3 separate regions of the Homo sapiens genome follow, and all the other regions are linked to region 3. The links come from fine-mapping of genetic effects on gene expression. A gene starts in region 3. Each other region holds a variant in brackets. All regions are shown on one strand. Distances are between the middles of the regions. Region 1 overlaps CFAP58 (cilia and flagella associated protein 58). Region 2 overlaps COL17A1 (collagen type XVII alpha 1 chain). Region 3 holds the start of COL17A1 (collagen type XVII alpha 1 chain).

What was found.
Region 1: its variant is fine-mapped to the expression of COL17A1 in spleen (GTEx, PIP above 0.99).
Region 2: its variant is fine-mapped to the expression of COL17A1 in whole blood (TOPMed, PIP above 0.99).

The regions. Positions count from the first base shown.
Region 1 is chr10:104,442,589-104,450,770 of GRCh38, reverse strand. It overlaps CFAP58 (cilia and flagella associated protein 58), which reads right to left. Exons shown (of 18, transcript NM_001008723.2): 16 at 2,954-3,073; 17 at 567-700. Among named protein-coding and RNA genes, the nearest start is that of LINC02620, 34 kb to the left of the region's middle. RefSeq lists an enhancer at 4,668-5,867. The variant T/C (reference allele first, on the strand shown) is at 4,619.
Region 2 is chr10:104,029,681-104,037,850 of GRCh38, reverse strand. COL17A1 (collagen type XVII alpha 1 chain) reads left to right here. Exons shown (of 56, transcript NM_000494.4): 46 at 78-215; 47 at 738-806; 48 at 1,219-1,359; 49 at 2,288-2,377; 50 at 2,478-2,588; 51 at 3,084-3,230; 52 at 3,517-3,906; 53 at 4,476-4,613; 54 at 4,883-4,945; 55 at 5,097-5,177; 56 at 5,561-6,565. The coding sequence ends at 5,616. Among named protein-coding and RNA genes, the nearest start is that of MIR936, 14 kb to the left of the region's middle. The variant C/T (reference allele first, on the strand shown) is at 4,240.
Region 3 is chr10:104,082,835-104,091,016 of GRCh38, reverse strand. It overlaps COL17A1 (collagen type XVII alpha 1 chain), which reads left to right and starts at 5,137. Exons shown (of 56, transcript NM_000494.4): 1 at 5,137-5,294.

The DNA.
Region 1 (8,182 bases), 360 kb before region 3:
GAGTTCAAGACCAGCCTGGGCAACATACCAAGACCCTGTTGCTACAAAAAAAAATCAAAAATAAATAAATAAATAAATAAATAAATAAATAAATAAATAAAACATAGGTGAACTGCTAGTAGTTATAGTGGTACAGGGGCATCATTAGAAAGAACAGCTTTACTAAGCCCTGGTCCCTTAGCAAAAGCACATGTGGTTTTAAATGTGAATATGCTGTACAAGGCTGATTTTGAAACTCATTTGCAAACATAGTTATGACATTATTATCTCCAAACCATAGACTAGTGTGGGGAGAAAAGTCATATTACATTTCCTCTGCTCCATGGTAGATCCACCAATGAGCAGATATTAATGGATCCCTGTTAGAATCCCAAGGAGGGGACTCAGTATCAGATGAGACACTGATCTTGCTCTGATACAAACTTAGTGACCTGTAGAATGTCATTTGTTTACCCTGTGATTTAGTTTACCCCAGTGAAACTTGCAACTCTGTGACTGTTCACCAAATATTTTCTTATGTGCAGATAATAGGCACAACAAAATTAGGACGTTTGACTAATTCTTACTTTTGAAGTTGTTCTTTACGTTTCTGAGCGAGGTATTTCTTCTTTAAATTCTGGAGCTCATTGGTAAGTTTCTCTACCTCATATTTATATTCTTTGCTCTGTACTTCATACATATTCAATTCTGAAGACAAAACCTAACATGGCAAATAAAGCAGCATTAACAAAAGATACAATATCCTTTTCTGAGAAATCTTTTAATCTGCTACCATTTACCGCAGTGGAGCTAGAGGTGCAAAACAATGCCCAAGTTTCACAATTAATCTGCATGCTTCCACCAGCTCAGGGTCCACATCTGAGTAGAAACCTGGCTGAGGGCTGAAGATGCATCACTAGGTTGCAACTTTAAACAAAATATCATTCCCCCACTTAAAACAAGAACTATTAGACAACATTCGAACAGGCTCACAGATGAATGGTCTAATGTGCTTCAAGGAATATCATGAATAGAGACAGAAAACTCCCAGACACACAGTCTAAAATTGCTTTTAAAGCCTTAAAAAAAAAGAAAATATTCAAGAAAAACATCACCAGAGTGTGTGATTCATCTGAGGATTATGAAAAAAATTATTCTGAAGTCATCCTGCCATCACTGCTAACTAAGCATTCAATTTATGTGTTTTCCAGGGTTGTGATGCTGCTGAATGCCTATCCCCTCTTTACTGTGTTCTTCGGGACTCTTCAAAGCCTGACTATCTGCTTCCTTCCATTGCTGTGTTCGGTAGCTGCTGCTGGGCTTGGGCTGGACAAGAAGAGTGGGAATTCACTCATCTGCATAGGACATAGCGCATGCCAAAGCTGGGGTGTGCTCCCCACCAAAACCAAAAAGAGAAAAGGAAGGGTATTGTTCTAACAGGCATGCAATAGGCTGGATTTATTTTTCCTCTTGCTTGTTGTTTTAAATATTTGCATAAAAGGGAGATCTTAGCCTTCTTAGTGTTCATCTGCTTCTGAACTCTTTCTTCTTCACTGCTGTGAAAATGATTTTGATTAGGTTATCATGGGCTAAAGAACGTAATTTTCATGCTGGAAAAAAAAAAAAAAAACCTGTCTCAGTAGTTAAACTTTTAGAAACAAAGACCCTCCTTCTAAACAATGAATGTGGAATTTCCTATAAGAGTAGGTAAGTATCAAGGACAAACTGGCAGACATGCTCAGTACCACCCACCTCTAAACCTCTTCATGAGGGGTCACATTTCATTTGAGCAAAAAATCTGGATTTCCTGAGATAAAGGGTTAAATTCACAAAAGGCTCCTGTGAGCCTTTGAAGGCAACCCGGAGCTCTGTGTGAATAAGACAGCTCTGTGCTTTTCTAATCTATATCTACCTCTGAGAAAACAAGAAAATAATTTGTTTTGTTCAAAATATTCAATTGTTTAAAGGAACAAAATAATCAAAAGATTACGTCCTATGCAAAATTCAAATTATGTCTCAAGATACTCAAGTGAAATGAACATTCAGAGTGACAAATTGAAAATTAATGCTCTAATTAGACTTGTTTCATTTGCCCTTTTAAAATAAAAGGATGCAGTTTTACAATGTCCTATTTTTGAAGGGGTTAGGGCTATACTAGTAGGGTGGCATATATTTTACCCCAGGCAGAAAGTCAACGATTATTACCCTCATTGGGCAGGAAGTGCCAGAATTCAACTGGCACATGCTTCATCCTGTGGCTGTGTGTGTAAAACTTCCCTGATATGCCAAGAATAGCTAAGTACTTGCTTAGAAGGTGAAGCTCAAAATATAGTGTGAACATGCACAACTTTTGAGAAAACTTTCAAAAGGCACATAGAAAAGTAAAACACTCCATATCTCTGCAACTGAGGGTCTTATGTGACTTAGAAGGGAATCACACTATCAAAAAATCTTGCCTGATTTTATTTCCCTTTCATGGTTACATATTTGACAGCTGGTCAGGAAGCAAGGCCCTCAGGGCTGGGCAGTGGCTGGACTTCTTCTGTGTATGTTTATTTCAGATGGGATGGAATACCAGGGACCCACTGTGGCACGGCAGTCTGCTTCAGTTGGTCAATGGTGTTAAAATATTTCCTTTGCTCCTCCCTGCCCTTCAAGTACTCTAATAAATCATCTCAAGATCATTCATCCAAACCCTGTCCGCACATCTCCATTCTGTTGTCATCATCTTTTCCTCCCTTGCTCACCTGCCTCTTTCTGGAAATGGAGAATGGTGCTGTCTAATAGTCCAGGAAGAGAAGGATAGCTCTGAGGTCTGCTGGCTCATCCTAGACTAGAGCTCTAAGGGAGCTGACCTCAGAGGATCGTGGCATTGAGAGACTGGCTCATTGTGTGGAGTCAGTGGACTTGTCCAGGTGTGCTCCCCAGAGTGTGGCTGCCCTGGAACCCGGAAGGAACAGGGGCTACCACTTACTTTCAGCTGCTGCTTCTTGTCATGCAGCGTGCGTCGGTACAGCTTCAGCTGTTCCGCAGCCTCAGGTCCAGGCTGGCGGGCCAAGACGTGCTTTAGTTCCATGTAGAGTTTCTCCTTTTCCTAGTGGAGAGCAGAACCAGGAGCAGAGATAAACAGCCCCGTCAAAACAGGGAAAATGCCTTTCACTGCATGGCCAGCACAATTTGGGAGTGGCCCAAGCTACTTCACAGCTCCACAGTGATCACATTCACTCACAGATTCATTCAGTCATGCATTGAAACAATCCTTATGAAGGGCTGGGAATGTCCCCAACATTTGGATACAAGTAATAAGACAATGAGTAAGAGAAAGTTCCTCTCTACCTGAACATAAGATCACAAGGACTGGGAGACAAGGGCAGGATACAAGATCTTGCCAAGAAAAGGAGGGAGTGACTGACTCTGGTTGGAGGAGTTGGTTGCAGGAGGAAGTAAAAAAGAGAGTTTTTCAAGAAATATAATAGCCTGGTGCAGTAGCTCGTGCCTGTGATTCCAGCACATTGGGAGGCTGAGGCAGGAGGGTCGCTTGAGGCCAGGAGTTCAAGATGAACATGGGCAACATAGTGAGACCCCGGTTCTATTTAAAAAAAAAAAGAGAGAGGAAAAAAAGAAAAATACAAAAATTAGCCAGACATTTTGGTGCATGCCTGTAGTCCCAGCTACTTAGGAGGCTGAGGTGAGAAGATCATTTGAGCCCAGGAGATCGAGGGAGCAATGAGCTGTGCACCACTGCACTCCAGGCCCCATCTGAAAAAAAAAAGAAAAGAAATATGATGGCATGGGAAGAAAAGAAATCTGAAAATGTCTTGAGGGAAGAGGTAAATATCCAAGGAAACTTGGGTATGCATATTTGTAGACCTAAAAGAAAGGATTTTCTAGAAACCCTAAGCAAATGATAATTCTGTAACTTTATTTAAACAATAAACAATATGAAATCCTCATTTGAATCCTAGAGTTTAATTGCTTGTAAAGTGTTTTCCGACCCTTGAACTAAAGAAATTACATATAAGCAAAGATTTATTTCTAAAGCATCTCAATTCTAGATTTCCAAATCACTAAACTGCAATAATTTGAATAAACATTGATAAAGTCTAGTGTGTCTACTCATCAGTCTCTGTACACATTTATTTCCTTAAGATAATTGTGGTAAGCACAAGCCCTGTCATTAAATGAAACATTCAGTCAAATGGATATTAATTTTTACCTACAGCTAAGTATTCTTAGTATTGTTATCAAATAATCTGCTTTTAGCAGAAAATATAAAAGTCATAAAAAATCAGGTGAAAGAAAAATCATTAACTAGTCATTGTTACCATTTGTTTCAGTTTTTCCTTTTCCCTGGCCAAATTATTGAAACTCCATTACAAAAACATAGCTCTATTTATAGAAGAGTGTATGCAACTTAAAAAGTATTTGGATGGAATAAGCTCTGGGAAAAACACATATGAAAAAAATACTCACCATTTAAGAAATAATTCCAGAAATGACAAGGAAATCCAAAAGCCCGTGCCAAAGAAGAGAACTTGAACAAATCAAATTACAAAGTGATGATCTTCCCTTGCTGTACAACACCTCCTGTCACACCTTACAATATAATCTTGAGAAAGATATCAGGAGGTGAGTTTAT[T/C]TTCTAGAGACACTTAACACCTACTCTGTTGGGAAAATAACACTTCTGACAAGGCTTCAAGATTCAATTTGGAGAGGGTAATAAATATGTGGAGAAGTCCATGAAACAGTTTTGTCCATTTCTTTCAGCTCACCTTTCTCTATACCAGAGTACAGATAGACTTGCAAAGGAAAGAACCTCACAATGACAGAGAGAAAGCAATCTGGTTTGGAATATAATAATGTCTTAAACTGAAAAGACCATCTTACTCCAAGCATCTTGAAATGTTTCACAGGTGTAATTCTCTTCAATTACTCTTGGTAGGTTGAGAGGAGAAAGACACAGAGAAGAAAGTTTGAAAGAAACAAAATATTGTCACCTCACCACATAGGTGAGGATCTCAGCATCAGCAGGAATTAATGGTGCCTCCACAGTCCATTGGCAAGTCAAAAACCTAGTGATGATATACCCCAAGAATCACCTTTCCTGTGCAAAACTTCCCCTGGGGCTCAAAGACATGGTATCACCCTGAAAATATTTGGGCAAAATTGAGCTACAAAATTCCATCTACATGATATCATGGATAGAAGAATCAAGCCAGAAAGTGGAATCAGGTTCAAAGCCACATTAGAGAGTAATGATGGTAAGAGCATGACTCACCTCCTCCATCTCCCCATCTACACCATCTGAATAAGCCCTGCCATGTCCTCTAATAGAAAGTACAGTGTTCTGACACAGAGTGAATGATGTTGTCATTTATCCTGTCTTCTTCGTCACTTCCAATATTTTGTTTCTTTCCTTTTTGTTCTTTTGGTTTGTTTTTTGTTGTTGTTGTTGTTTTTTTTTTTTTTGAGACCGGGTCTCACTCTGTCACGCAGGCTGGAGTACAGTGGCACAATCATATCTCACTGCAGCCTCAACCTCCTGGACTCAAGCAATCTTCTCACCTCAGCCTCCCAAGTAGCTGGGACTATAGGCATGCACCACCATGCTTGGCTAATTTTTGTACTTTCTGTAGAGGCGGGGTCTCGCTATGTTGCCCAGGCTGGTCTCCAACTCCTGGGCTCATTTTATCCACTCACCTCAGCCTCCCAAAGTGCTGTGATTACAGGCCTGAGCCACCACATCCAGCCTAGTATTTCTTTCTAGGCTTTAACCTTAATTGAAATGGATTTATTATAAAGAATAGCTGAGCAACTGAACTGTGAGGGCCCACAAGTATGGAGAAAAGTGAAGAAACTGAATTACCACTAAAGCTGTCTGGGTAGTCAAAGTCAAAAAGTTCTGAGAATTAAATAACCCAGGGCAAGTGAGCCCTGTGTGTTCATGGTGGGTAGAAGAAATAACAAATGAAACTTCAGGGACTAAGATAGTGGAATACATGAAGAGCAGAGGCAAATGGAATGGGGGCAGTTGTTGGAATGTGTATTGCCCGGCTTCACTGTGCGTGAATTTTGGTCAATGCTTACAGTGGAAAACCTGTCTGATAAAGCAAAGTCTGGTCAGCATTAACATTCTAGCCTTGTGTATCATACAGACTCATATTTTTGGAGAATGTGCTAGTAATTTAGATAAATATGAAATGTTTGATGGATTGAAGGTCTTCAGTACATTGTCTTCCAATTTATTTCTCTCGTAATCCTCTACAAGGGCCAACCAAGCTCTTCAAACATTGTGCAATGGTGTGTATAATAACCCCATTTAGAGACAAAGCGTGCAATTCTATTATAAAGAGAATCTATCTTATGCAACAGAGACTCATTAGCTGTCCAATGTATATTGTCTCCATAAGCCAGCAGTGGCAGAACCAGCTGCCTTATAATACATATCCTGTCCTTCTTTACTAAGCCACATCCATTTCTCTTTAGTCAATTAATTTGTCACTTGGTTAGAAGCACCATATGTCAATGAAACATCATAAGAATATCATAAAGAGGATATTATTTCCCCACCAACAAAAGATTGCATCTTCAGTTTGGCATTTCTTTTATTCCGAGTTTTCTGGTGATGCACAGCAATATCGCTTTGTAGCATGCCTCACTATTTTATGAACAGCTGTACTGGAATCAAGCTCAACTACTAATACCAAAATACTAGCTTTCTCTTTGGCTAAGCATGTCTTGAGAGCACTAACCATACTATGTCCATCCTTGAAATGATAGCCTCTTCCTAGACATCCTGTTCTCTCCGTTGGACAGGCCATCAGATGTGATTATGAATTCTTTTGCTGTGAAGAATCTGCCAAGTTATGCTGGGTAATCACACATCTCATTGTCAATATCAGCTAAGTATGGTAGTAAGAAATTAATTACAGTATTAGCTTCCAGTAATGCTGTTATTACATGGTGGCAGTCTGTAACCTCACAATGGAAATTCCAGACATATTCTGAACAGCCTATGCAAATAAGAGTCAGTGCTACTCCAGGTACAATTCAGAGGGAGAAATTGAGTTTCTCACAGAACTCCTTTCCCCACCAAGCTACAGTTTTATAATCACTGTCTGTTTATATCTTCAGCTGAAAACAGAAGGTAGTTCACATTCAACATGCACCTCAGCACCCCTTCTTCCTCAGCTCGCATACACGAAGCAATAACTGACTGAGAGGAACTAATTTATTCCATTTTCATCTGAATCTGTATTTGGCAAATGCCAGTGCATTGATTCTGCTCACCCTGGAGTCATCAATTTGCTTGGGTGAGAGTTGGGAAGAATCACCTCACTCTGTGAACAAGCTGACTCAAGCGAAACAGGCAGCTTTCCTCCAGACCAAAGACACATGCTTATCTACACCTACCAGGGCAAAAGCTACCCACTCAGATGCTTGAGTGCCAAGAACTCCAAGGAAAGAGATTCCATCTTGCCTTCACTCCAGCCTTACCCAATGGGTTCAAGATAATGTTGATTTTTTTTATTCAATAACCACTGCTTCTGAGAGAAGCTACTTCACAGAATACACAGAAAATCTCTTTCTCAAAATGTCAACAGATATCATGTTACTACCAACAATATTTTATCTTTATAAACCCATTATTTCTCTCCAACTGAATTTTGAGCCTTTAAGGCCAGAACCATGGTGAATCTCTCTCTATATAACTCGCACCTGCTGTTGTGCTCTCCTCATTCTATTGAGGAAGCTTAATAATTTCATTGACTGCAATTACACGGTCAGGTCAGCAAACTATGCCCATCGTATTTTACCAACATACATCAATACAGGTACAGATATATTTGTGTTGAGAACTTTTACTTGAATTAAACCATTCAATAACATCTTCCAGTTAGCAGAGCTTGCATAATTCACTTTATTGAGCTGGTCCTATGAGTTCCATCACTTCGAGCAATATTTTTTTATTATGTATGTTGTGTATAACTCAGAAAATCACTTGAGGTACAACTTTGCCTTGATCTCTTCAATATTTGTAGAGGTTTTCTGATAGTTCAAGTAGTTTCAAACATTTTTTTAATTCATAAGACTTGCAAATGTATTCAAATTAATTGGCTCTGAAAAGACTACTTGTATGTGCATGTACATACTGATACACATAAATATAAAAATGTAAGCATAACTTTTTTTTTTTTTTTTT
Region 2 (8,170 bases), 53 kb after region 3:
GTGCTTCAGGTCACCTCCGTGGGGAGAACATGTCCTCTTGGGACAGGCTTGACTTTGCTTTGTTCCTTGGTCGGCAGGTGACAGTATTAGATCTTACCTATCCGGAGTTCAGGGTCCCCCAGGCCCACCTGGTCCCCCAGGACCTGTCACCACCATCACAGGCGAGACTTTCGACTACTCAGAGCTGGCAAGCCACGTTGTGAGCTACTTACGGAGTAAGCCCTTCCCCACGCCCTGCACCTGGCACCTTCCTCCTGTGGGTCTGCTTTTGCTCCCAGAGCCTCATCTCCTCGTTTGCTGTTTGCTTTGCCCTTCTCTGGAACATGAGTTTTAATTCCGAATTCATAATAATCGGGCCACTGGGATACAGTGTCAACAAGGGTCTGTCCAGATTCAGGGCGGCCACGCTGGAGAGACACCGAGTGAGCCTTCCGGCAATTGACTAATGTGTTCCTAATTATAGGTTCTTCCCACCTGTGCATGAAGGTTGGCAGCATCTGGCAGGCATTAGGCTAAAGCATGTTCTCAAAAATAAACTTCCTTTCTTACAAAAAAAAAAAAAATCCCAACAACAGTATTTGACTTTGTTATGCTTTCAAAATAGCCTCGTAATACTCCATTCATCCACTTCCCCCAAAGACAAACAGCTCGGTGACCGGGCCTTTCAGATTCTGGAATAGTGAGGGTGTTGCTTCAGTACCTGCTAAGCAGGTAACCTGAGGTTTTCTTCCCGACAGCTTCGGGGTACGGTGTCAGCTTGTTCTCGTCCTCCATCTCTTCTGAAGACATTCTGGCTGTGCTGCAGCGTGAGTCACCTGTGGGGGGATCGAGGGTGGGACTATCTTTGCTTTCTCCTGGCCTCACTCGTCATGCAAACCTTGTCCTCGTCTGAGCCTTGGAAGGGCTGCAAGAGGGAGGCAGAGTCCTTTGGACAAAGAGCCACTTACTGCTCTGATCTGCTTGCTGAGTCAGCAAACCGGCTGGAAAGGGGGCAGGAAATGTCCTCCCAAGCCCCCATGCCAGACAAGCTGGCAGGTGTCCCTTTGGGAACCTGGCAGCTTGCTGGTGTCCCCCCTGAACACCGTGGTCCTGCGGACCCAGAACTCACAAATGTCACGCAGGAGCCAGTTTGTGCAGGGGAGCCCAGGCTGTGGCTGGATCATGGCTGCGACCCCCATGGCCTGGGTGGGTCCTGCTAGTGCATCCTCTCCTCTCCAGGGGATGACGTGCGTCAGTACCTACGTCAGTACTTGATGGGCCCTCGGGGTCCGCCAGGGCCACCAGGAGCCAGTGGAGATGGGTCCCTCCTGTCTTTGGACTATGCAGAGCTGAGTAGTCGCATTCTCAGCTACATGTCGAGTAAGTGTCTGCAGGAGGGGTGGTTGGGAAGGGCCTGGGATGACTGGGATGAGGACTCGCAGCGTGAACTTCCCTGTGATTGCCCCACTGACCCCCACCTGCCAGACTGCACCAACCCCAGCAATGAGCAGTGCTCAGAGCCGTTCAAACCTGTGAGCCTGGAGCAGGTCAAGAAGCATGGCAAGGAAAGCCAAAACGGGGGTCTCAGGCACTGTCTCGTGTGGAGTCTACATACAACTCTCTCTCTCTCACACACACTCCCATACACACACACCCATACTCACACTCCCATACACACACACACTCACTTCCATACACACACACCCATACTCACACTCCCATACACCCATACACACACATATACACACACTCCCATACACACACACTCCCATACACACACACTCCCATACACACTCCCATACACATACTCCCATACACACACTCCTATACACACACTTCCATACTCAGACACACCCATACACACTCACATATGCATACACACACGCATTCCCATAAACACACTCCCATACTCCTGTACTCACACTCCCATACACTCCCATACACACACACTCATACACACTCCCATACACACGCTCCCATACACTCCAGTACTCACGCACACTCCCATACACTCCCATACGCACACTCCGATACACTCCCATACACACACACACTCACTCCCATACACACATACTCATACACACACACACACAGAATGAAGCACACAGGCACACTGGACCTGCTTCTCCGGCCCCGTGGGCCCCTCCGTTCCTCCTTTGGGCTCCTCCTCTCTGCCTCTCTTCCTGCCACCATCTCTTTTCTTTCTTGGACCCCACTTCTGTCCAAACCTCTTCTGTATCCGACCTCCTCTCTGACAGGTGTTTCCATCTGCCTCCCCCTGCCTGATCTGAATCCATCACCTCCCTAGGTTCTGGGATCAGCATTGGGCTTCCTGGTCCCCCGGGGCCCCCTGGCTTGCCGGGAACCTCCTATGAGGAGCTCCTCTCCTTGCTGCGAGGTAAGGCCCAGCAGGGGACATCTGTCCAACTGGTTGGGGAGGAAGCAGAGTCCCTTGGCCCAGGCCAGGACTGACTCCGTGCCCTCCCTTGGTGTCTCAGGGTCTGAATTCAGAGGCATCGTTGGACCCCCAGGTCCCCCGGGTCCACCAGGGATCCCAGGCAATGTGTGGTCCAGCATCAGCGTGGAGGACCTCTCGTCTTACTTACATAGTAGGGCACTGTGGAGTGGGATGGGGAGGGCAGGGGATGCAGCCGGGCCTTGGGGGCTCCCATGGGCTTTAGCAAGGGCAGTCTAAGTGCTCCTGGAGCCTGTACAGTGCTGGGTGCAGGGCCCTGGAGAGCGCCACATGTGCTGGCAAGGGGCCTTCAGCCGTGGCAGGGACAGAGGTGGGGAGAGATGGCTTTCCCAGGCGCAGCCCGGTGTGTGATTAGGGCCGACCTGGGGCTCCACCTCTCAGTGACTGGAGGGCTGAGTTGAATGAGGCTCAGAATTGGGAGTGGGAGAGCCTGACGGGAACAGCCATTCCTGGATGATGTCAGGAAACAGCAGGCTCTGGCCTCCTGCTTTTCTCTCCTCCCATCACCCGGGAGGCCCAGCCTCATCCCCTCCTTTCAGGTGGGGCCCACAGCGCCCCGAGCACAGGCTGGGAATTCAGCTTCCTCCGCAGCACTACCCCGACCTTTCTTTCTCTTCCTTCTGCCCAGCTGCCGGCTTGTCATTCATCCCAGGCCCTCCAGGACCTCCTGGTCCCCCAGGGCCTCGAGGGCCCCCGGGTGTCTCAGGAGCCCTGGCAACCTATGCAGCTGAAAACAGCGACAGCTTCCGGAGCGAGCTGATCAGCTACCTCACAAGTAGGTGCCCCGACGGTGATGCCCCACCAGGCACCCCGCAGGCCTTGCTTTTCCCTGTAAGTGGGGCAGGGAGGCACTTAAAGGGACAGGAAGGCCACACGAGAGCCACTGGTGGGGTAAGCCCGGTTTCCTTCCACACCAAAATTCTCCCACTCGGGTACAAGAACCCTGAAGTTCACTTCTGGTCTCTCAGGGGCATTGACACCCTGGGAGAGACTCCCTAACTCCCAAGTCTTTCTCTCCACCGAGATCTGAGCTCCCACTCATGCAGCTTCTCACCCTGCAGGTCCTGATGTGCGCAGCTTCATTGTTGGCCCCCCAGGCCCTCCTGGGCCGCAGGGACCCCCTGGGGACAGCCGCCTCCTGTCCACGGATGCCTCCCACAGTCGGGGTAGCAGCTCCTCCTCACACAGCTCATCTGTCAGGCGGGGCAGCTCCTACAGCTCTTCCATGAGCACAGGAGGAGGTGGTGCAGGCTCCCTGGGTGCAGGCGGTGCCTTTGGTGAAGCTGCAGGAGACAGGGGTCCCTATGGCACTGACATCGGCCCAGGCGGAGGCTATGGGGCAGCAGCAGAAGGCGGCATGTATGCTGGCAATGGCGGACTATTGGGAGCTGACTTTGCTGGAGATCTGGATTACAATGAGCTGGCTGTGAGGGTGTCAGAGAGCATGCAGCGTAAGTGGGGACATTTAGGCCTTGGTGCTGGGGGGAAGGAGCGTGGGAGCATCTCCAGACTGGCTTTCTTGTTTGTGGAACCCCCAGGCTGTGAAGACAGAATCAAGCAGGCAGGGGCTGGAGGGGACAGGCAGCCCCAGCCTAGCTCTCAGCCTACTCAGCTTAAGGAGCCCCAGTCCTGGGACCCGAGCTGTGGGGAACAGAGCACGCTGGGGGCTTTGTACTTTGTTTTCCCAACACCTAGCTCGTTCTGGGTCCCAGATGAGTCATATGACCATGCTGGATTTTCTGCTGGGGCCGAGAGAAGGATGTTGGCTAAGAGTCCTTTCCCCG[C/T]GCAGCTTAACGGCACAGTTACGCAGTCAACAAGCTTTTGATGCCGGCCCACAGCAGGAAGAGACCTGTGCCAGTCACACAGTGGAATACAAAGGAAGTTGGAGGGCTTCACCCTTGCTGCGGCTTGATCTAGTTCAACTGCTTTGGGAGTTTGACACTCGGAGGGCACTGTGCTCCTGCTGAAGAGGGTACTGGGAGATCCCTGCTTCCTGTGCCCAAGCTCTGGTGTTTTACAGGTCAGGGCCTACTGCAAGGGATGGCCTACACTGTCCAGGGCCCACCAGGCCAGCCTGGGCCACAGGGGCCACCCGGCATCAGCAAGGTCTTCTCTGCCTACAGCAACGTGACTGCGGACCTCATGGACTTCTTCCAAAGTAAGGGCATCCAACTGCTTTCCCAGCACCTGCCTCACTGCATAGGTTCCCACGGGTCTGCTCCAGAGACACCAGTCTCATGAGAAATCTCCAGTTATTAACATTTGAGATGCTCAAAATTAGACAAATTCTATAAATTCTGAACTTTGTTTCCTCTTACACGTCCAAACTCCATCACTATCTCTCTGTGTTACTCTGAACAAATGACTTGATGTCCCAAGCTTCCAGGTGATCAAGACTCTAAGGCCAGTGTTTCCTTGCTTTTGCAGCTTATGGAGCCATTCAAGGACCCCCTGGGCAAAAAGGAGAGATGGGCACTCCAGGACCCAAAGGTAAGTGGTGGCAGAGAGCCAGTCCCTGGATCCTGTGTTAACACCCACCTCGTACTGAAAAGCAGCTCCTGTGCTGGTGCCACACCGGCTACCTGTGCCCTCAGTCCCCAGACTCATGTATTACTTAGTTACGCCCCATTTTTCCTTCCAGGTGACAGGGGCCCTGCTGGGCCACCAGGTCATCCTGGGCCACCTGGCCCTCGAGGACACAAGGGAGAAAAAGGAGACAAAGGTAAGTGTTGACTGCTCCACGTTTTGCATGTTCTGGAGGGCTGCAAGGCTGACGCTCATTAGAGAAGCAGGTGATTTGTTCCAGAGCAAGCCTGAGAAATTCAGGCAAATGCCAATTACTCCAGGCAGACACTGCCAAAAGCAGAATTTGCATAACAATCCCATTCACAGTGAGGAAGAAAAGGAGAGTGTCAAAGCAGGGAGGAAAAGGAGAACCAAGCTGGTGTTGAAATGGGGCAAACAAGTTAAATAAATGTAGTCTTACAAAAGATTTCACCTTTGAAGCCATCTTTGCAGTAGTCACGGTTGCCATAATTGCCCAAGCCAAGATCCCCACAGGCCACAAGATATGTTTTAACTTCCTACTGATCTTCTAACTTTCAGGTGACCAAGTCTATGCTGGGCGGAGAAGGAGAAGAAGTATTGCTGTCAAGCCGTGAGCTAGCCATGGCAGGACAGCTCCTGGACCAGGTCTCATAATGCATGTGGCACTTAGGTCCAAGGTCTCCAGAGGGTGAAAGCTGGAGTCTGTCAATGTCCTACTGAGACAGCACAGCCAACCTAGCTAGCAACATTTGTTTTAGTCTGAACAATATATACTTATAGAATTCAGTCAAAGATACACAATCTGAAACAGCTTCATGGGGTGGACTCTAACAGTAGTTGCAATGTTTTAGAATGAGACTTACTTCTCTGCTATCTAGATCTGAACTCCTTGGCTTCTTTACTTAGTTCAAGCCCCAGCCTAGGAAAGCCAGTTACATAAAAGTTGGCTCAGGAGTCTTAGAGCTTTACCTAAATATGAGCCCAGAAAACGGAGGATGGGGGTGGGGCGCCTTCCTGGAGGTGACACTTGATGGGGGTGTGTTCTGGTTACTGTTCTAAGGCTGTGCCATCAGCTCCTTCCTCCCCTGTTCATTCTGCATTCTCTAGTCAGTTGGCTAAGAAGTGACTCTTGCAACTAAAAAAATTAAGAAATTCACTTCCCCTCTAGGAGGTGATGATAGGGTTTCTAATGGTTATATGTATATCACATTCCCATTTGCTTAGAAAGTCTGATTGTAGCTATGATTGTCCGTAGGCCCATACTAGAGTTCATGGATATGTTATACTGAACCAGGCCAGAGCAAACAGAAAAAGAAGGTTGAGGGCAATGGACAAGGAAGGAATAAAGGGAGAAGAGGGAAAACAGAAAACCTGATGCTGGGGACACAGCATCAGCTCAAGACGTCACCCTCCATTCTGCACTCAGAAAATGGCACTTGGGGGACTGGGCGCAGTTGGTCTTTAACCACTTTTCAATGTCTAAAAACATTTGTTTGTGGTCTATAAGATGAAACATCATTTCAATCGTAAAATTTCCCATTAAAGAAGTTTTTTTTTCTAATATCATGTTTAATGTGATTCGTCTGACCAAAGAAAGATTAAAAAATAGTCTGGGTTAATTGGGTCTGATTCTAACACTGTTTATTACAAACACAAGAAAACAAAAGTGGTTGTATTTTGGGGCATAGCTTCTGGTATTTCATTCAATCCCTGAGGTCTTCAAAGGCAAATCTTTAGATACCTGCAACTATGAACTCAATCTGGGGATTTTACAAAGCACATGAAAGTTTTCCCCAAGCATAAGTTATTTGAAATAAACATGCAACAAATGAGCAAGAAGATTACTTGCAATTAGGTAGTGCTTTATCCTGGGGCAATGGAATTATGATTGTAGGGCAAGTAATATATGGAATATAGAAACTTCTATTAAAGAAAAATGTACAAATCTCAAATGCCCCAAAGAAATGCACAGTAAAATCAGACACTCCAATTGAGAAGAGACTCTACTTAGCCACTTTGTGAATTTGTTACAAGTTGTGACTCTCAAATTGCTGGATAATTAAAAATGGGATTAAATTGCATCTATTTCTACACCACTACTCTTCTAAAAAGACTTTATTTTCCATAAGGTCTCTGCTGAGTATCTCATATTATCCCAGAAAAAACACTCCACTTGTTTCCTCTATATCAAACAACCGCTAACGGCAACAACCAGTCAAGCACTACACACTCTACGTGGTCTTTTTGCCTCTTTTATTATATCCTGATAATTGCCTGCTATGAATTAATGAGAATTTTTTAAAAATAAGGCTGGGCGCGGTGGCTCATGCCTGTAATCCCAGAATTTCGGGAGGCCGAGGCGGGCAGATTGCTTAAGCCCAGGAGTTCGAGACCAGCCTGAGCAACATGGCAAAACCCCATCTCTACTAAAAATACAAAAAAATTAGCCGGCATGGTGGCGGGCACCTGTGATCCCAGCTACTCGGGAGGCTGAGGCTGAAGAATCACTTGAACCCAGGAGGTGAAGGTTGCAGTGAGCTGAGAACGTGCCACTGCACTCCAGCCGGCAAGACTCCATCTCAAAAAATAAAACAAAAATAAAATAAAAATTAGTTCATACAGCCTCCAGATTTCAAACAACTTGAGTTTTACTAAGCAAAACTATTGTGTATAATAAAGGAATTGTGCTTTTTAAATAATTTTTTTTCAAAAGAATTCATTAGTTTTACCCAAAGGCTGAATTTTTTACTTTTTAATTGTAGCTTTTACACTTATTAAAAGTAACTTCCAAAAAAAGGGGGGAAAAAGATGTTTTGACCCTTTAAAAAAAAGTAGCTTTAGGGGTTCAAGTATTATATCCCCTTTAATAGTGATCCTTATCTTGATTAATCAAGACATAGGAGTTTTTTCCTTGTTACTAGATCTACCTAAGATACCCAAAGTCTTCATCAAGTTTTAGCTCAAGTAAAATAGGGTACAAGTCCAAACTTACTACCTTCTCTGGACAAAACTCAGAAAGAGGATGGGCAGATATGAGGTTATGTCCTCAGCTGGATGGCAATGGATGTTAGCCTCTTTTGTTTCATTTTTTTTTTTTAAGTCAAGAATGAGCTCAATAGTGCACAACGCTCCCAGATTAGAAAATGACACTCCATGCCTCCCTCCAGC
Region 3 (8,182 bases):
TTCTTAACTGTTCTCTTGTGGTTTATATTCTTCTGTATGTTGTAATTATTGGTATATGTGGTGACTGTGTTCATATATTTTTTCTTTTTGTGTTGTAAATTACTGGAAGGCAGGTTTTATATCTCACCCTCAGTTGTATTTCTACACCTCATGCCTTGCTCATGATAGACACTCCATAGGTGGTAGTCCACTCACTCAACAAATATGTATGAGTTTTGAATGGAAAAATGAGTGAATAGATCTGAAGTTGGGAATGGAAGAAAAGGAAACCAGGGTGCTTTGTTATTATAATCAAGGCAGCAAGGAACACAACTGGCGATAATTCAAGAAGCCCACATGGGAAGGGCAGGAGTTCGTACTACTTAGCTATGTCCTTCCAAAAGCCAAACAATTCCACACACCATGACATATGATGTTGTCATAATTGTGTATAGAGAAGTCTTATCTAGTAGCACATGCTAAGCAAAGAAGCCAAGCCGGAAGATGGTCTTCCAGTCTTAGAACAGTAGTAGGCAACTAACAAATAATTGTTGTATTATTTTTATTTAATATGTGAGAATTGGTTTTTTTAAAAAAAAATCAGTGGATTTACTGTCCAACAAAAGAGCTGAATCAACAATTGTAGATACTGGAATTACCTCAGTAAATTTAAAATTATTTTCCCTCACCTCCTTTTCAGAGAACTTTATTTCTTATTGTCTCTTGAGAATGGAGGGCAAAATGTGTCCCAAAGCTATAAGATACCTCGTGAAAGTATCATAAGCACATCATGGCACTATCATGTGATACTGTTTTTATGAGAAAAGAGTCATAGAATAGGTAGAAATCCACCTATTGGGTACACCCCTTTAAACCAAACACATAAAGAAAATATGCATCTACAAAGATTCATAAGGTAGTGAACAGTCACTTGGCAAAAGCACTCACTCTGGTCACCAAAAACAAATCCCTTTTCAGAAACACATCAGTCACATAAAGCAGAGTCCGCCTGTACTCACGCTGCTCAGAGAGTGATGCGTCTGGTCACTTGGTGCCAATCTGGGCCACACGTGAAAAGACACTCTTTCTCCCCAGCCTATTTAAAAGTCAGTAGATAATTTTGGAAGTATAACTATTTTTCCAGGTTGCCTTTTAAGGGACTTTCTAGTCCATCAAAAATGGATTAATGTGACTCATTAACACAGCTCCAAATGCAGTCAGAGAGCAAAAAACACCTTTCCAGTGTCTTAGTCACTTCTATTTCCTAAAGCTGACTCTTTGCTTCTTCATTTTGGCAAGAATTTTGTTGTTTTCTGGCTAATTTAAAAACATTTAAAAGACAGCTCCCTTACTACCAGGCATATGGTAGGAACTTGATACATAAATGTTAAATGAAGTTTCTTTCACTGTATGTACCATGTCTTACTCACAGATTTGCCAAGTACAATAATCTAAGAACATTGAATAACTAGAATGTGAGTACTTGAATTCTTTTTTCTTCTCCCCCAAAATACCTAATATAGGACTCTGTAAACACTACTCACACATGCACATCTGAATATGTGAGAACCTGCACATGCACACACAGACATGCAGTCTTATTAGCTGTTGAGTTAGCTTAGAGCATCCTTGACTAATTAACTTTGGGGGTTATCTGTTATAGATCTGACTGTTCTATTGTACCTGGAGAATACCAATATTTTTATAGGAACCCAAGGGTAGGAAAATACCATCCATGCTGATTCTGATGGTTGCTTAGCATGTTAGCTTTATTTTATTTTTTAATTTATTTTTATTTGTAGAGATGGGGGTCTCACTATGTTGCCCAGGCTACTCTTAGACTCCTGGCCTCAAGAGATCCTCCTGCCTTGGCGTCCCAGAGTGCTGGGATTATAGGCATAAGCCACAATACCTGGCCTGTGTGTTTGGTTTTATATAGTTGTTATAGTTGAAAAATTGATTGGTCTGTGGTTGCTGAGTTCTATAAATAGATTTCTATCTAAAACTATCAATAAGTTATTCCAATACCATACTGCTGTTAACTGAAAACATCCCCACTGTTCAGATGGTTTGGGGTTTTTTTTAGTTGTAATTTGCCCTCAGCCTGATCTGTTCTAATATTGCCTATTTTCTTTCAGTTGAAAGCTATGGGCAGACTTAAATTTTAATAATACACAAGGCAGTGGGAAATGAAGGTCCAAGAGTCAAGTGGAATCTATTAGACTCTGCCACTTATGAGATGGAAGACCCTTGGCCTGTTACTCAGCCTCTCAAACTTTACTTTTCTCAGGTATAAAATGAAGGTAATAATGGTACACACCTCTCGGAGTCGTTGTCGGGATTGTGTTAGAGAATGGATGTAAAAAATCTGGCTTACAGTAGTTCTAGAAAGCATTAGTTGCAGTCGTTCTTCTTTCCTGGGATCAATAATCCGAACACCCACACAGTGCCTGTAGGGAGTTGCTCCTTAATGTCAACTTAACATTTGCCACATAACCCAAAACATGACCCTCCACAGCCTGTGAGGCCCTGTGTGATCTAGTCCTGCCTCCCTTGCCAGCCTCTCGCCCGCTGCCTGCCTCCCTTCACTTGATGCTTTTGAGCAAATTGGCCTCATCACTCTTCCCCCAACTCACCGTGCAGCTTCCACCTGAGAGCCTTCTCAGAGACTCTTGCCCCATCTAGATAGTAGAACACTCTCCACCCTGCCCTTCACCTGTGTGATCTCTTTTCAACCTTCATGTATCACTTATATAGCAGGACTTTTCCTAACACCCCTCTCCAAGATTATGTCTCTTCTTACGCTCTCACAGTAGCCAGTACTCTTTCTTTCTGATCTTGCTCTGTCACCCAGGCTAGAGTGCACTGGCGCCATTATAGCTTACTGTAACCTTGAACTGCTAGGCTCATGCAATCCTCCTTTCTCAACCACCCGAGTAACTGGGACTGCAGGTACATGCCATCATACTCAGCTATTTTTTTTTTTTTAGTAGAGACAAGGTCTTGCTATGCTGCCCAGGCTTGTCTTGAACTCCTGGCCTCAAGTCAGTATGCTTTCTTTATAATAGTTATCATATTCTTGCAGTTGCTCTTATAATATATATATATATATAATCTGCAATTATATATTGTACGTAACTGTTATAGGCTGAATAATGTCCCTCCAAAATTCATATGTGAAGCCCTAGCCATTAGTACCTCAGTGAATTTATTTGAAGATAGGGTCTTTAAAGAAGTAGTTAAATTTAAGTAAAAAAGGAGCCCATCAGGGTGGACTCTAATTCAATCTGACTGTGTCCTTTAAGAAGAGGAGATGAGGACACACAGAGAGAGACATCAGGGATGTGCATGCACAGAGAAAGGCCATGTGAGGATACTGCAAGAAGGCGGCCATCTGCAAGCCAAGGAGAGGGGGGTCTCAGGAGAAATCAAACCTCCTGACACATTGATCTTGAACTTCTGGCCCACAGAACTGTGAAAAAATAAATTTGTGTTGTTTAAGCCACCCAGTCCGTCGTATTTTGTTATGGGAACCCTCACCGACTAATACATTATGTAAGGCCTGTCTTCCTCCATTAGACTGTGAACTCCATAAGCAGAGGGACTATGTTCATATTTCACCACCAAACTCTTAGCACATAGTTTAATGTCTGGCTCCAAGCAGGAGCCAATATATTTTTGTTTAATTCTTGAATTCATGAATAAAGAAATAAATGATGCAGGGGCATGTCTATTTTATGCTGAAAGCTCTGTGTGTTCTGGGTTCTTCAGTGTTCTTCTACTATGAAACTGACGGAAGACATATTGAGTATTTATTTGGGGAAGGCAAGAACATCCTACAAAGCAAGTGTCAAATTCTGCATAATTGAAAGGGTTCTGAAATGCACGACTCCAGTGTGGAATATGGGCAGCTTAGGAGCAAGAGCCCCACAGCTGTTGTTGTGGTCTGCTACCCTTCCATGGGATGCAGTGCCCACAATAGCAAGGTGCAGTTGCACATCGGTGCTATGCTGTAAGGGCCCCACTGCTCCCCTCCAGTATCTTAGGATAATGCCTCAGAACTGGGAATCCCAGTGTGATGCTGGGTCCCAGGAATGTGCTATGGCCTCAAAGGACTGCCTGAGTGAGTTCCAGGTTCAGACTTCCCATTTTACCAACACCAAGTGTCTCAAGCTAGTCTTTAGGCCCCCTGGGAAGCCAGATGCTATCCAGGTATTCATAAGAATTATCCTGATTGATGCAAGTTGACCCTCTAGGGAAATCTAAAGGTCCCCAGGATGTACTTGGAGTTGCAGGACATCTGGGAGCCCACACATGTCTTTAGGTGTATGGAGACTATGCGGTCACCTGATTTGAAGGACAAGAAGGTCCTTATCCCTTCCCAACAGCACCTCTCTCCATTATTAGGTGGCTAAATGCCTAAAATTCCATCACTAACATGTCACTCTTTTAGGTCAGCATCACTATATCTGGTTGCCTCTTTTGTAAAACGAACCCCTACCCCACCAATTGCTCAGTACATTCAGTCATTAGCATATTATGAATTAGTTCACCAACTATTTTCTCCAGATGGGCTTGACCTGGCTTGAGTCACAAGAGGGGAAAGAGGACAAAGACATCTATAGGGGAAACAAGACAAAGGACACAGGACACAGGAACAGAGGACGAAGACATCTATAGGGGAAACAGATCTTGAATATAAATCCTGCCAACTTCAGTTTTTCTAGGGCTCAGGCAGTATGACCACAGGCCATCCATGTGCCTAGACCATGCTCATCCATGAGCCCATCCACGTGCCTAGACTCATGAATCATGCAGTGGGATTCCAGTACCCATGGCACTGAGGAAGGGTACTGCCACAAAGTTGTGGCAGTTCTCCAGCTGTAGAAGGTAGGCAATAAAAAAGCATTTCCTTTATGCTGGTCCTTTGTTTCCTTTTCCCCATGGGCCTTATAAATAGTTAATCTACCTAAGCTGGAAGGAGAAGCTTTCTGCCTCCAGTAAAGTTTGATTCCTGGAGGCAGATTTTTTTTTTAAATCCAGCAAGTGTCAGATAATTGGAAGGGTGGAGTAACGCTGTAAACCATGACACACCTTTGTCAGGACATGTTTGGAAGCAAAGAGTTGAAAGAAACAAGGTGGAGAGAAAGAAAAGTGAACATTTTTGAAAGATCACTCAGCTTTAACACACCTTGGCTGGGTCTGGATAAAAAAAAAGTGAGCACTGCAAATTTCTAGAAGAAAACATCAGGAGAAGAAAGAGAGAGGGGGATTTATTCAAAGTTGTTTCCAATTCCTTCAAAACCTCAAACCAGGTAAGTAAACAGGAAGACTGACCTTTCTCCTTTTCTCTGAGACTTTGATTTAAGGTTTGCCATTTAGAAATTAAATGTTTATTGGAGAAAAGAAGATGAAGTTCTGTAGTTTCTAGCATTCTGGTTAAAGTGATCAATTGGTTATAAAAGATGACTTTGGTGTATGCATTCTGCTTAGGGTAGGTCTTTCAAAGGAAATAAGTGGGGAAAAGGAGAAGGCTGAAGGCTGGTTAAAATATAGCGGGCTTTAGAGGCAAGACCTTTCTGCATTGTTTTCAGCATTGTAAAATGACTTGTGTTGTTTTATTTAGAATATGATACGGGCTTATAATTCCTTCTCTCCCAATCTCAGTTTCCTCTCTCGCTATCTTGCTCTCCTCTTCCCTCTGTCTCTCTCTCCACTGGACGAAGAGAACAACTCAGGGGTGAAGTTAAAGTATAGGTAAGGGGGCCTTCTAGAAACAGTCCCTGTGCTGACTGGGCCTCTCTGATTAAGCCATACATGGTAAACATTGCTGTTTACCATGCTGTAAAATTACCTCTAATCTAAAGAAAAGTAGGATCTTTGAAATGATCTGATTAATTCAGAAATTTTGCAGGATCAAACTTAGAGGAATAAAAAAAGGAAGAAAATTGTTTCCCGTATATATACTCTTACGAGTCAACTTGGGTTTCCTCCTGCCAAAAAAATTCACTTTGAGATGAGAATTACCAGTTTAGATACCTAAGTGGATGACGTTAACTGGTAACTGACAAATTATCACTTTACTTTTTGAAGTGGAGGCAAAACCTCTGGCACATTCCTTCTTTTGAGAAGTAGTTAATCAGTAGTCTAATAGTGGACTTGTAAAACGTAGCAAGATTTTTAAAAGGTATTTATTTGAAAAGCAGAATAGTTTCTTCTTACCTCCATATGTTCTCTCTTAGAGCTAAGGCACAGATCTGTCAGAACTAACCTAAGACAGATGTCTATCCCCACACAGACTCACTCCAGAGATTCAGAGGTGTCCTGCTTTACTCTTAGGCCCTGCAAAACACCCACATGAGTCTGATCAGAGTTTACACAGGAACAATTAAAGTGAACAGCTCTGCTTCAAGCTTGCATAGAAACTTACCAGCCTGGGTAACATGGCAAAACCCTGACTCTACAAAAAATACAAAATTAGCCAAGCATAGTGGTGTGCGTAGTGGTGCACACTCATATTATACTAACCCCATCTCTACTAAAAATACAAAAATACAAAAATTAGCTGGGTGTGGCGGTGCATGCCTGTAACCCCAGCTACTTGTGAGGCTGAGGCAGGAGAATTGCTTGAACCCAGGAGGCAGAGGTTGCAGTGGGCCAAGGTTGTGCCACTGCACTCCCACCTGGGCAACACAGCAAGACTCCGTCTCAAAAAAAAAAAAAAATAGGAAAAAAACTCCTTAGATTGGTGAAACTGACCTGACCTAAGAACTAACCACCTTCTCAGATTATGAAAAACAAAAAGAAGTCTGTGTTTACATTGTTTGTTTCATTTGCCATTATTAACAGTGGCAGGACACAACTGTAAACAAACCAGCATAATCACAAAGCTGGTGCCCTATCCCACCTGCTCCCAGTCATGAAAATCCAGGATACCAAATGTAGCAAGCAGCAAACCCATCTCTGGGGTGTTACAGAGACAAAGCCTCCAAGATATTCAATTCCAGGGCATTGGCTTTCCTGGCATCAAACTGCTGGGCCCTTCTGTGTTATCAGGTCAATAGCCAGTGGATGGTTTTCTAATACTTTGGCAATTTTGTTGTTGTTTTGTTTTAAAATTTAAAGTGTATAGAGAATGGAGTAATAGAAGCTATAAAAATACTTGCAATTCATTAGCAGAGTATAGGAACATTTGTTCCTAAAACAAAAAATAAAGAGAAAAATACTTAGCTTCTTCATTCTCTTTGTTGTATCAAGAACAAAGTGTTTCATGTGTCATTAGAATAAGATAATGTGATGGTTTAAACCCAAATGTGATGGTAAACAGTTAACGTGATGGTTCACTGTCACTAACAGTGGTTTGTCCTTGTGTGTGTGTGTATGTTAGACAGCATCGGCTGAATAGTTTTAGGTAGACGTGACATCATTTAAATAAAGGGGAAAGGAAAAAACTCATAAAAGTAGAAAAATGATTTAAAATTGTGTCTTCTTGCCTAGAAAAGTGACATGGGATCATTTTTACACCTTCACAAAAACATTAGCTATAAAATAGCCACAAAGCAACCCTTTAGAACTATGGATGGAAATTAGTATAATTTTGGAATTGAGAGCTTGAATGATCTGCTCATCCTTAGTTCTAGTGAAGTGGCCCAAATATCTGAGAAGTTAAAAATTATGTTATTTGACAGTGCTTCCATTAAGTAGGACTTTTGGAAGACGAACACACTGGTGAATCCTGCTAGGATAGGCAGGCTCAGGCATGTACCTGGGCAGGAAACGTTCCTTTTCCTAACGTTACACTTTTAAAAACTATCAGCACTTAAAATGTGTAAAAAAGAAGTCCTGGGAATATACTGTAGGTCCCATGGGAAGATCCTAGTCCAGGCTTGTGCCCCACGCCATCACTCTCCATTTAATATAACTCACTTATAGAAAGTTTCCTCTTATATTTCGTTTAAAGGAATCAGTCTCCCAACACGTACCTGGCACCTCAGATTGGCTGTGGAACACACAGACATTGGGGTGGCTTCAGATTGAGAGAGAGGCATCTACCTGTACCTGCCTAGAGCAGGTTATATCCACAAAGTACCTTCCAATGAGGAGCTCCCAGGCCCTGAAGGAGGGCATCTGATTTCTAAGTAGGTCATCACTTCGTGCCCTCTGGAAGTTGGGGAATCCTTAGCATTTTACTGCAGAAGTCAAG